3 linked regions of the Homo sapiens genome follow. The protein of the gene in region 1 purifies or fractionates together with the protein of each later gene. This does not show direct contact. Each region holds a gene or a part of one and is shown on either strand. Other genes may lie near its edges.

The links.
Region 2: the proteins of HDAC5 (region 1) and YWHAE purify together in Homo sapiens (affinity purification with western blotting; 7 studies listed by BioGRID and IntAct, with this or other methods). This does not show direct contact.
Region 3: the proteins of HDAC5 (region 1) and PRKD1 purify together in Homo sapiens (affinity purification with western blotting; 4 studies listed by BioGRID, with this or other methods). This does not show direct contact.

What each region holds. Positions count from the first base shown.
Region 1 is NC_000017.11:44,122,059-44,125,807, forward strand, and holds the start of HDAC5 (histone deacetylase 5), read right to left. Parts: upstream 1,584-3,749; 5' UTR 1,446-1,583; exon of another isoform or gene 1,196-1,445; intron 1-1,195. UniProt on the Homo sapiens protein: Responsible for the deacetylation of lysine residues on the N-terminal part of the core histones (H2A, H2B, H3 and H4).
Region 2 is NC_000017.11:1,393,607-1,397,355, forward strand, and holds part of YWHAE (14-3-3 protein epsilon), read right to left. Parts: intron 1-3,749. UniProt on the Homo sapiens protein: Adapter protein implicated in the regulation of a large spectrum of both general and specialized signaling pathways. Binds to a large number of partners, usually by recognition of a phosphoserine or phosphothreonine motif.
Region 3 is NC_000014.9:29,599,102-29,602,850, forward strand, and holds part of PRKD1 (serine/threonine-protein kinase D1), read right to left. Parts: intron 717-3,749; coding exon 555-716; intron 25-554; coding exon 1-24.

The sequences.
Region 1 (3,749 bases):
CAAGCTTTGTGTTTAGGGAGGGAGAGGAAGGAGGGAAGACTGGAATGAAGAAGCAGGCAGCCCCCAACATGGCTCATCCACCATCCAGCCCAGCCAGCCTAGCCCAGCCCAGCCCAGCCCAGCATCTCAACAGCCAGCATAGGCTCAGGGTGCCTAGGACTGGGGAGACTGAAGACCATGCCTGCCTGCCTACATCCTCTGAAACTAAGAGGAAGCCAAAGGCAGGACCCAGACCCAGACTGCAATCCTGCAAGGCAATCTGGCTAGGGGTCCCTCTGACCAAGACTCCTGGATCTCACCCTCCCCCCCACCTCCTTTTGTTCCCATAATCTGGCTCCATCCTCCCCTCCCAGTTGGACACTGAAACCAATCACCACCACCTCCCCAAGCTCCAAATCTAATCCCAGATCCCAAAAGCATGGTGGTCACTGACTGAGTGATGGGTCCCTTTTGCACCCTCCTAAAAGCAACTGCAGCTGTTACCTTTCCTCTTTAGGGACACACCTCATTTCAGAAGGGGTATCAGCCAGGGGTATCAAGTGGTCATCTCCTCTCCCAAAGGAAGCACCCAACCTCCCCACTTCAACAGCCCCCACCAAGCTCCCAGATTAATTACTTACACCCAGCCAGTTCTCATCTTCCCCAGGGCCCCAGGGAAGGGTGGGGTGGAGAAGCTGACTCCCCCCAAGTTAATAAGGCACTGGTAGTGCCCCCGCTTCCATGAGATACAGATCCAGGATGAAAAATGGGGGGCATCCACCCAAGACAAGAAGGGGTTGGGGGGGAGCTCCATTTCATCTCCTAGCTCTCGCATCCTGGCTCCAAGGTGTCAGACAGGAGAAGAGGGTGGCAACAAACGCAGTAACGCCTCACAGGAGACGGGGTGAGAATAATGGGAGAGAGAAGTAAGGTGGACTCCGCAGTCCCCCTCCTCATGCACGGAAGTCAAGGACATAAAATCAAGGATGCGTTCGTAGCTATGGGGAGAAGCGCTCTGGGTGGACAGCACCCCTCACCTCAGAGTACCAAGAAAGGGGTGTCCAGCGAAGAGGGGTCTGCACAGAATCCGGGTGCAGGGCTCAAATGGCTCTGCAACGCAACATGCGCCGCCAGGGAAGGGGCAAATCAGACAACCCCGGCCGGTCTCCGAGCCATTTGGGGGCGCAGGGCGCGAGAAGGCGGGCCCCTCCCTTACCTGTAGGGAAGGCGCCCCTGTCTGGGAGGGGCAGGGAGGGGCGCGCGCAGCAACCCCGATGTCCCGCTCACGGGCTGCCGATGCTCCCGGGGGGCGCCGGCTGGCTCCCAGGGCCGGGAGGAAGGAAGGGGGGCGCGGAGCGCGGCGCGCGCGCTGGGAGCCCGCGGACAGAGACAGCAGGAGGAGGGGGCGCCGCCTCGCGTCCCGGGGTCCGGGGAAGATGGGATCTGGGCCGGGGCGGCGCGCTCACCCGCTGCGGCTCGAGCTCCGGCTTCGCGGGCGGCGGCGGCAGCAGCGGCGGCGGCAGCGGCGGCAGCACCTCCTCGACGGCTCCTCCATCTTTGCGGCGGCTCCTCCGGCTCCGCTCGCCGCCGCCACCAACAACAACATTCGGAGACGTCACTCCCGTCACGTGACCCGACCCGGAGCTAAAAATAGACCCAGACCCCCCCCCCAGCCCCCCCCGCCTTCCCCTTGCCCGCAGCCACCACCAACCCCTCCCCTGCCTCTCGGCCCTCCCCGCCGGGCGGGGCCAGCGACGCCATCGTGACAGCTCCTTAAAGGGCCAGTGCCCAGCACAGGGTTCGGCCGAGACGGGGTGGAAGGGAAGGGATCGGAACCCAGCGAGCAGGAGTGGAAGGATCGCTGCAGGGGCCGAGTATGGATGCTGGGGCTCAACCTTTGGATTGTAAAAGTTTCCTCCTTGCGCTCCCCGGACTTTCTTTTCAAAACGTGGATGGTGCAATCGTCGCTTGCCTAAGCTGCTCCCCTAACACGCCCTCCCGCGGTCGGGGAGGGGACCTGGGGATAGATTCCCAGGGGCTGGGAGGGCCACCGCAGCCTCTGCAGCGGGGCCTGGCTGCGGGTGGATGGTTCGGACAAGTCTCGAACTCGCCAGCTCTGACCGCACACACTGCATCCGTGCCAGGGAAAGAAAAGCCTGGGAAAGGCCAGGGTATGGCTGTAACACTCCAAGGCCTTCAAAAGGGCAGACCAGCAGACCAGGAGCCGGAAAGACTTCCCTGACTTTGGTGCCATCCACGCTACATCTCCTCTTGGTACACAGTATGAACATGTTTAATTAGACCTAGACAATTTGTCAATGACCCAGCAATTCCACTAACAAAAATGTATTCCAAATAAATAAACGTTGTTATGTTAAAAAATGAACATGAGATTGTTTGTAATGATGTGAAAAGTTGAAAACAACCTAAATATCCATCGATAGGGAATTGGCAAGCAAAGCAGGAGACATTCATTCAGTAAAATATTATCCAGACATTAAAAGTTTTATAGGGGACCGGGCATGGTGGCTCACGCCTGTAATCCCCGCACTTTGGGAGGCGGAGGCAGGCGGATAACCTGAGGTCAAGAGTTTGAGACCAGCCTGGCCATTATGGTAAAACCCCGTCTCTACTAAAAATACAAAAAAATTAGCCGGGCGTGGTGGCAGGCGCCTGTAATCCCACCTACTCAGGAGGCTGAGGCAGTAGAATCCCTTGAACCTGAGAGGCGGAGGTTGCAGTGAGCCAAGATCGTGCCATTGCACTCCAGCCTGGGCAACAAGAGTGAAACTCTGCCTCAAAAAAAAAAGTTTTAAAGGGGCCAGGTGCATTGGCTCTTGCCTGTCATCAATCCTAGCACTTTGGAGGCCGAGGCGGGAGGATTGCTTGAGCCCAGTTCAAGACCAGCCTGGGTAACATGGCGAGACACTGTCTGTATTTTAAAAAAGAGGCCGGGCGTGGGCCGGGCATGGTGGCTCACGCCCGTAATCCCAGCACTTTGGGAGGTCGAGGCTGGTGGATCACGAGGTCAGGATGTCGAGACCACCCTGGCTAACACAGTGAAACCCGTCTCTACTAAAAATACAAAAAATTAGCCGGGCGTGGTGGTGGGCGCCTGTAGTCCCAGCTACTTGGGAGGCTGAGGCAGGAGAATGGAGTGAACCCGGGAGGCGGAGGTTGCAGTGAGCAGAGATCGCGCCACTGCACTCCAGCTTGGGGAACAAAGCGAGACTCCGTCTCAAAAAAACAAAAAACAAAAACAAAAGAAGAAGAAGAGGCCAGGCGCGGTGGCTCACGCCTGTAATCCCAGCACTTTGGGAGGGCGAGGCGGGCTGATCACAAGGTCAGGAGATCGAGACCATCCAGGCTAACACGGCGAAACCCTCTCTACTAAAAATACAAAAAAAAATTAGCCGGGTGTAGTGGCGGGCGCCTGTAGTCCCAGCTACTCGGGAGGCTGAGGCAGGAGAATGGCGTGAACCCTGGAGGCAGAGGTTGCAGTGAGCCGAGATCACGCCACTGCACTCCAGCCTGGGCAACAGTGTGAGACTCCGTCTCAAAAAAAATAAAAAAATAGCCGGGCGCAGTGGCTCATGCCTGTAATCCCAGCACTTTGGGAGGCCGAGGCGGGCGGATCACGAGGTCTGGAGTTCGAGACGAGCCTGACCAAAATGGTGAAACCCCGTCTTTACTAAAAATTCAAAAATTAGGCGGGCGTGGTGGTGCACTTCTGTAATCCCAGCTTCTCAGGAGGCTGAGACGAAACAATC
Region 2 (3,749 bases), about 43 Mb from region 1:
TTTTAGTAGAGACTGGTTTTCACCATGTTGGTCAGGATGGTCTCAAACTCCTGACCTCAGGTGATCCGCCCACCTCGGCCTCCCACAGTGCTGGGATTGCAGGTGTTTGAGCCGCGGAACCCGGCTGGGGCTTTTCTTTTTTTGGTTGTTTTTTTCTTTTGCTTAAAGAGGTGACATCTGCCTACAATAAATCATGTTTTTTAAGAATCTGTATGCGAATAAACATTCTGAGAGTACCTAAACTTCACCTCATTTTAATTTCGCTGTGCCTTGAGATGGGATTTTATCTCTGAAAAAAACCATCAGGTTTCTTTAGGAAAGTGAAAAGATTTTGTCTACAATTCACCATGGATATCAGTCATCACAAACATCAAGATGTGAAGTAGATGCTATTAGAATTGTTAAAGAACAAGCATCAAGCATACGCTACTCACCCCCTACTCCCCTGAAAGGCACCACCTTACTTCACAGAGGTCTTTTGAGTGGCTGAGAGTAAGTGTACCGATCTAAAGGTCAGCAGACACTAAGTTCTGGCTTTACCATTTAATAACTGATTAGCCACATGATCATAAAAAAATCTCTCTCTCAAACTCACTTTCTTGAACCAGAAAATGGGAGTAACGCTCTACCTGCTTCAATCTTGTTACATAAATTAAAAACTTTTGTCAACGTGGGCTGTGAACTGAGGTACTGCATAATGTCATATACACATATGTAAAGTTTAGGCCAGAAGCAGTGACTCACACCTGTAATCCCAGCACTTTGGGAGGCCAAGGTGGGAGTCCAGGAATTCAAGACCAGCCTGGGCAACATAGAGACCTCAAATCCACAAAAAAAAAAAAAAAAAAAAAAAAACACAAAAATTAGGCCGGTGCAACAGTCCCAGCTACTAGGGAAGCTGAGGCAGGAGGGTCACTGGAACTCAGGAGGTCGAGCCTGCAGTAAGCTATAATGGCGACACTGCACTTCAGCCTGGGTCACAAAGCAAGACCCTGTTTCAAAAAAAAATTTTTTTTTAATTTAGCCTTCCCATAAATACATACACCTAATATGTGCCCATTAAAAAATTAAAAATTTAGGCCAGGTACAGTGGCTCATACCTGTAATGCTAGCCCTTTGGGAGGCTGAGGCGGGAGGATCACCTGAGGTCAGGAGTCAGAGATCAGCCTGGCAAACATGGTGAAACCCCATCTCTACTAAAAATACAAAAATTAGCCAGGTGCGATGGCGGGCGCCTGTAGTCCCAGCTACTCGGGAAGCAGAGGCAGGAGAATCGCTTGAACCCAGGGGGCAGAGGCTGCAGTGAGCCGAGATCCTACCACTACACTCCACCCTAGGTGACAGAGCAAGACTGTCTCAAAAAAATAAATAAAAATAAAACTGCAGCCTTTACTCCATGCTTGTCATTACTGTTTGTGTACACAGTGTTCTTGAAATATAAAGAAAAAATATGCCTGCAGTATCAGTCACCCTTACAGTCATCCATGAAAAAAAAAAACAATCAGGCCGGGTGTGGTGGCTCACGCCTGTAATTCCAACACTTTGGGAGGCCGAGGCAGGCAGATCACCTGAGGTCAGGAGTTCAAGACCAGCCTGGCAAACATGGTAAAACCCTGTCTCTACCAAAAACACAAAAATTGGCTGGGTGCGGTGGCTCACACCTGTAATCCCAGCAGTTTGGGAGGCTGAGGTGGGCAGATCACCTGAGATCAGGAGATAAAGACCATCCTGGCCAACATGGTGAAACCTCGTCTCTACTAAAAATACAAAAAATTAGCCGAGTGTGGTGGCACGCGCCTGTAGTCCCAGCTACTTGGGAGGCTGAGCCAGGAGAACCGCTTGAACCTGGGAGGCGGAGGTTGCAGTGAGCCAAGACCACGCCATTGCACTCCAGCCTGGGGGACAGAGCCCAGTCGTAGAAGGGATTTTTAACACTACGTTACTCAGTTCTGTCTATGCATTTAAGAAGGAGAAAAATAAACTTTACTCCAGAAAGTTAGTCCATTAACTGAAACGGCAATGGAAAATTACTGGCCTACAGTCAAAGAACTGGTAGTTAATCTAAATACTTCTAAACTTATTAACAACGTTAATTTACTACTACCTATTTTTTTCCTAACAAGACCGTAGTAAAAAGTTCATTCCACACATGCTCCCTTCCCTGTTCTTCACTAACTAGCAGAATAAGCTAGCTAGAGATGAGGATCTGGTGTTTTAAAAGGACAGCTCTCAGCGGGCTCAGTGGCTCACGCCTGTAACCCCAGCACTCTGGGAGGCCGAGGCGGGCGGATCACCTGAGGTCAGGAGTTCGAGATCAGCCTGGCCAACATGGCGAAACCCCATCTCTACTAAAAATACAAAATTAGCCTGGCATAGTGGCGGATGCCTGTAATCCCAGCTACTCTTGGAGGCTGAGGCAGGAGAATCGCTTGAACCCAGGGGATGGAGGTTGCAGTGAGCCGAGATCGCGCTATTGCACTACAGCCTGGGCGACAAGAGCAAGACTCCGTCTCAAAAAAAAGACAGCTCTTGACCAGGCGCGGTGGCTCAGGTCCTTAATGTCAGCACTTTGGGAGACTGAGGTGGGCGGATCACCTGAGGTCGGGAGTTCGAGACCAGCCTGACCAACATGGAGAAACCGTGTCTCTACTAAAAAAGAAATACAAAATTAGCATGGCATGGTGGCACATGCCTGTAGTCCCAGCTACTCGGGAGGGTGAGGCAGGAGAATCGCTTGAACCCTGGAGGCGGAGGTTGCAGTGGGCCGAGATTGTGCCACTTCAATAAAGCCTGGGAGACAGAGCGAGACTCCGTCTCAAAAGAAAAAAAAGACAGCTCTCAAGTAAATGACTCAACAGATGCATTCCTAGGGAATCCAACATGACCATCAAAACTTCATCCTACCTTCCATGAAGCCAATCTTGATAGGGAAGAGACTAGGAAAGGACAAAACCAACAACAGCCCCACAAGCCCAAATGTAGTTTATGTTACCCCTCTGCTCCCCAAAAACGGGTAAACTTTTCCCCTCTATATTCCCCGTTTTTTATTGTTGCTGTTGCCCAGGATGGAGTGCAATGGCGCAATCTCGGCTCACCGCAACCTCGGCCTCCCGGGTTCAAGTGATTCTCCTGCCTCCGCCTCCCAAGTAGCTGGGATTACAGGCACCCACCACCCCCGGCTAATTTTGTATTTTTACTACAGACGGGGTTTCTCCATGTTGGTCAGGCTGGTCTCGAACTTCTGACTTCAGGTGATCCACCCGCCTTGGCCTCCCAAAGTACTGGGATTACAGGCATGAGCCACCGCACCTGGCCTCTTTTTTTTTTTTTTGGAGACAAGAGTCTCGCTCTGTTGCCCAGGCTGTAGTGTAATGCCATAATCCTGGTTCACTACAACCTTCACCTCCCGGGTTCAAGTGATTCTTCCACCTCAACCTCCTCAGTAGCTATGCCCGGATAATTTTTTTATTTTTGTAGAGACAGGGTTTCACCATGTTGGCCAGGCTGGTCTTGAACTCCCGACCTCAGGTGATCCACCCGCCTCGACCTCCCAAGGTGCTGGGATTACAGGCGTGAGCCACCCCGCCCGGCCTTTCTTCCCCACTTTCTTGTACTATTTCATATACGGGACAGTAAGAGCTGTTTGAGAAATGCTAAGAAATAATGGACTTGCTTAATATGGTTTCAAAGGAGGTAAAAACGATTCGAATAGACTACTGGCTTGTTAAAGTGATGAGATGCTAGATTTA
Region 3 (3,749 bases), on another chromosome or scaffold:
AAGGTGCCGCAAAGCCACGAGTATCTGTAAAGAAGAATCACCAAAATTTCATTCCAGTTTATTAATTTCAAAATGTCTTCTACCAGTTAAAAGGCCAAGAAAAAAAACTGACAATGGACATTCAAATTTCTTTATGTTAAAGACACTGAAATGAGCTAGATTAACATAGGTTTCTAAAGAAATTTCAATGAAAAAATTACCATATGATGGTATTCATACAGCGGCCAAGACAGATGTAGATAAAAGACCTATATCTAACAGGGACACCCATTCTTAAATATTCTCAAAGAACCAAAACTAAACCAATGTACATTTTAAAATTTCATGAAAAGTTTGAATACATGGACCTGCAAACATGTTACTAATTTGGTACACTGTGGACTCTGATTAATATAGATATAAATCACATAATACAATAAAGCCACTACAACCTTTTCTAGTGTAGTTTAGACTGGAGGTAGGGACTAAACAACAAGGCTAGAAAGCTGTAGTTAAACAGTGATAACATTTGATATTAAATATTGTATTTTTTCCGTCTCTAATTGATTTCTTACCTGAGTAATTAAAAACTTCGTTATGTGCTCTGGCAACCTGCCCTTTTCACTTGACAAGATCATTTCCAGCATGTCTCCATGGAGTTTTTCCATAACAACAAACACTCTTTCAGGCGTCTCAAACATACACTCCAAATTTACAACACCAGGGTGATGAAGGTTCTATTAAAGATAAATAAAGCACTTGAAGAAAATGAGTTTTTTGATACTGTTTGGCAAGCTCGCTGATTATACAAAACTGTTCAAGCTTAGAGCTATAGAGAAACCCACACTTAAGATTTTTAACACCTCTACATTCCACATGTGCTGCCTTATATTTTTGAAATTCTAATGTCTCCAAAAAATACATCTTTACTTTCTATGCGTAGTGAAATTATTTCTATGTGAAAAAAATCCAAGTTCTAGCACAGTGAATTGCTAATTAGGTTTTAATTAGAATACCATATTGAGAAATCTATAATTTCTTAGGATCATCCCCAATATTAAACATATTGTCCTAACTAAGCATACTAGGCTATTTATATACAATTGGTAGAAATCTAATGTAGTAAAGATGAAATTCATACATGTAGTGCATCGGGCCATGCACTGATTAAGTACCTTAGTCAAAACCTTTTAGAAATGCTTTGCTACTGGTACTGGAGGCTGCAGTTTTTGACAGAAACTCTTATACTAAGTGAAGATCATAAAAATAGCAACAAAAAAAAAGTGAGCCTGTGCTTTGTCTACAATACCATCCTACCTGCTTGGTTTTCAAGCACGCAATAAATATAGCTAATCCTTGAGAAACACAAATTTGAACTGTGTGGGTCCACTTACATGTGGATATTTTTCGATAAGTACAGTTGGCCCTTGGTATCTGTGGGTTCTGCATCCACAACCAAGTGAGTATTGAAAATACCGTGTTCACCGGATCCAAAAACCTGAGGATGAGGAGGACCAACTTTTCCTAGAGGGAAGTTCTGCAGAGCCAAATGTGGGATGTAAGTATGCGTGGATTTTGATATGTGGTGCGGTGGTTCTGGAACAAATCCCATGCGGATACCAAGGGACTGCTGTCTTTCCACAATAAAGTAATGACTAGTAATGGTAAGCAGCATTTTGCTTGACACATTAATTGCCACATGTCAAGTAAAATTACGCTTAGCATTAGACGATCTCTTGTAATAATGCTTAAATCTGAACGTTCTTCTGGGTCATCAACAAATGCCTTTGATCATTTGACCTTTACCTTTTTTCTCTGCACAACAACAAATCCTAACATTAAAAAAAAATTATATATTCCACTTATATCCCAATGAGCAAGAGAAGAAAAATCATCATGAACAAAAACCACCTAAACAAAAAAAGCAGGAACTAACTTAAATGTGCTAACAGCTGAAGAGAGAAAAAAATTAAATGCTTCTTTATTTTAGAAAAAAAAATCTCAGTGATAAAATTGTACGTAAAATGAAATTTAAAACCTCAAATGGCTCACTGCTCAGAAACCTCACAGATGGATGCTGGGTGGTGAGCAGCAGAAGGGGTTGTGGGTGAGTCTACATTGTTGTAGTTGTCCTCTCACTACCCATTTGCAAGGAAAGCCTGGCATCAACTGGATATAGAACCAGGAGCTCTGATGATGATAACTCATTTCTTAGAGAGTCCTTTTTCTACTTTGCCTGTTTTGATCTCTGCCTCAGGCATCTGATGGGTCTCTTTGATTCTGATGCCTTGGGTCAAATCATACAGCATAATGGAGTCATGGAATTGCAAGTTTATTATGAATGTGATCTGAGCAGACGCCTACACATCTACCCAATAGCCTTTAACCTCTAAAGGGCTAGAGTCATTGTTCTTCAAACCGTTGCACTGTTAACTGGTCAAGTCTGGCAACTTCGAATAGACCTCACCTCCCACGTTGCTCTCTCCTGGTCAGAGCTGAAGCACATGGAGATAGTTGGGGTTCACAAAGCTCATATTATCAACCCTCTTACTTTACTTTTCCTGATTACTTGCAAATAAGAGCAGATAGCCAGATGGCTTTGAGTATTATGGGAGGGCCAGAGGCTAAGGAGGCGACTAATATGACGACATACACTTGTTTGATAGGCACTATGGAACATGTGATAGTATTGTTCATACTTGAACTTGTGTCCCAGGCTGTCTCATTTCCTTTTCCTTACATGCCTTTCCCTGTTAGAGAAGCCAGACTGACTGCACAGACCACTGGCCTCTGAAGTGTCAAAGGTCTCAGCTGTTCTCTTTTAATCAATAATCACAGCACGAGCTTTAAGGATTACATGAGTTCGGCTAGAGTTCTGATTCTCCTAGGACAAGTCCACTATGATATGTGCAAAGTACACGTTCCTCTTTGAGCATCTTCATTGATTCTTTTATTTTTCTATTTAATATAACTGTAAGCACTTAAGCAGTGTTCTGGGGAGTCTGGCTTCCTTAAATGGCTAAGCTTTGCAGTACGGGTGGGAAGCAGAAGCAATGAATCAGAAAGGAGCAGAGCAACAGAAGTAGACAGGAAGGGTAGGTGTCCTCTGTGTGTAGGCAGACGAAAAACTAGTAGGAACAAGAGATAAGCGTTAAGGGAGAGTGACCTCGGGGGCCCAGGGAGGGCAGGGGTCACGGGAGTAGTATTGGAGCTGCACAGCCTGCTGCTTCTGCTGATCTTAGATTCTGAAAGTTGGAGAAGAGGGGAGAGACGCAATGACTGGGGAGTCCTCCTACCTAAATTATCTGAATGATATGAATCCTTATGTGCCTCTACCTGTATTCCTCTTTTTTTTTTTTTTTTTGTTTTGACGGAGTTTCACTCTTATTGCCCAGGTTGGAGTGCAATGGCAAATCTCGGCTCACCACAACCTCTGCCTCCCAGGTCCAAGCGATTCTCCTGCCTCAGCCTCCCGGGTAGCTGGGATTACAGGCATGCACCACCATGCCTGGCTAATTTTGTATGTTTTGTAGAGATGGGGTTTCTCCATGTTGGTCAGGATGGTGTCTAACTCCTGACTTGAAGTGATCCGCCCACCTTGGCCTCCCAAAGTGCTGGGATTACAGGCATGAGCCACTGCACCTGGCCAGTACATGAGTTCTTAGAGGTACTAAAGTCCTTCACTCAATTTATTCCTTTTTCCTACTCCACAACATGACCTGAGGTGCCCCTGTACAGAGGGTAGAACTTTAATACATGTTTATTTCCAG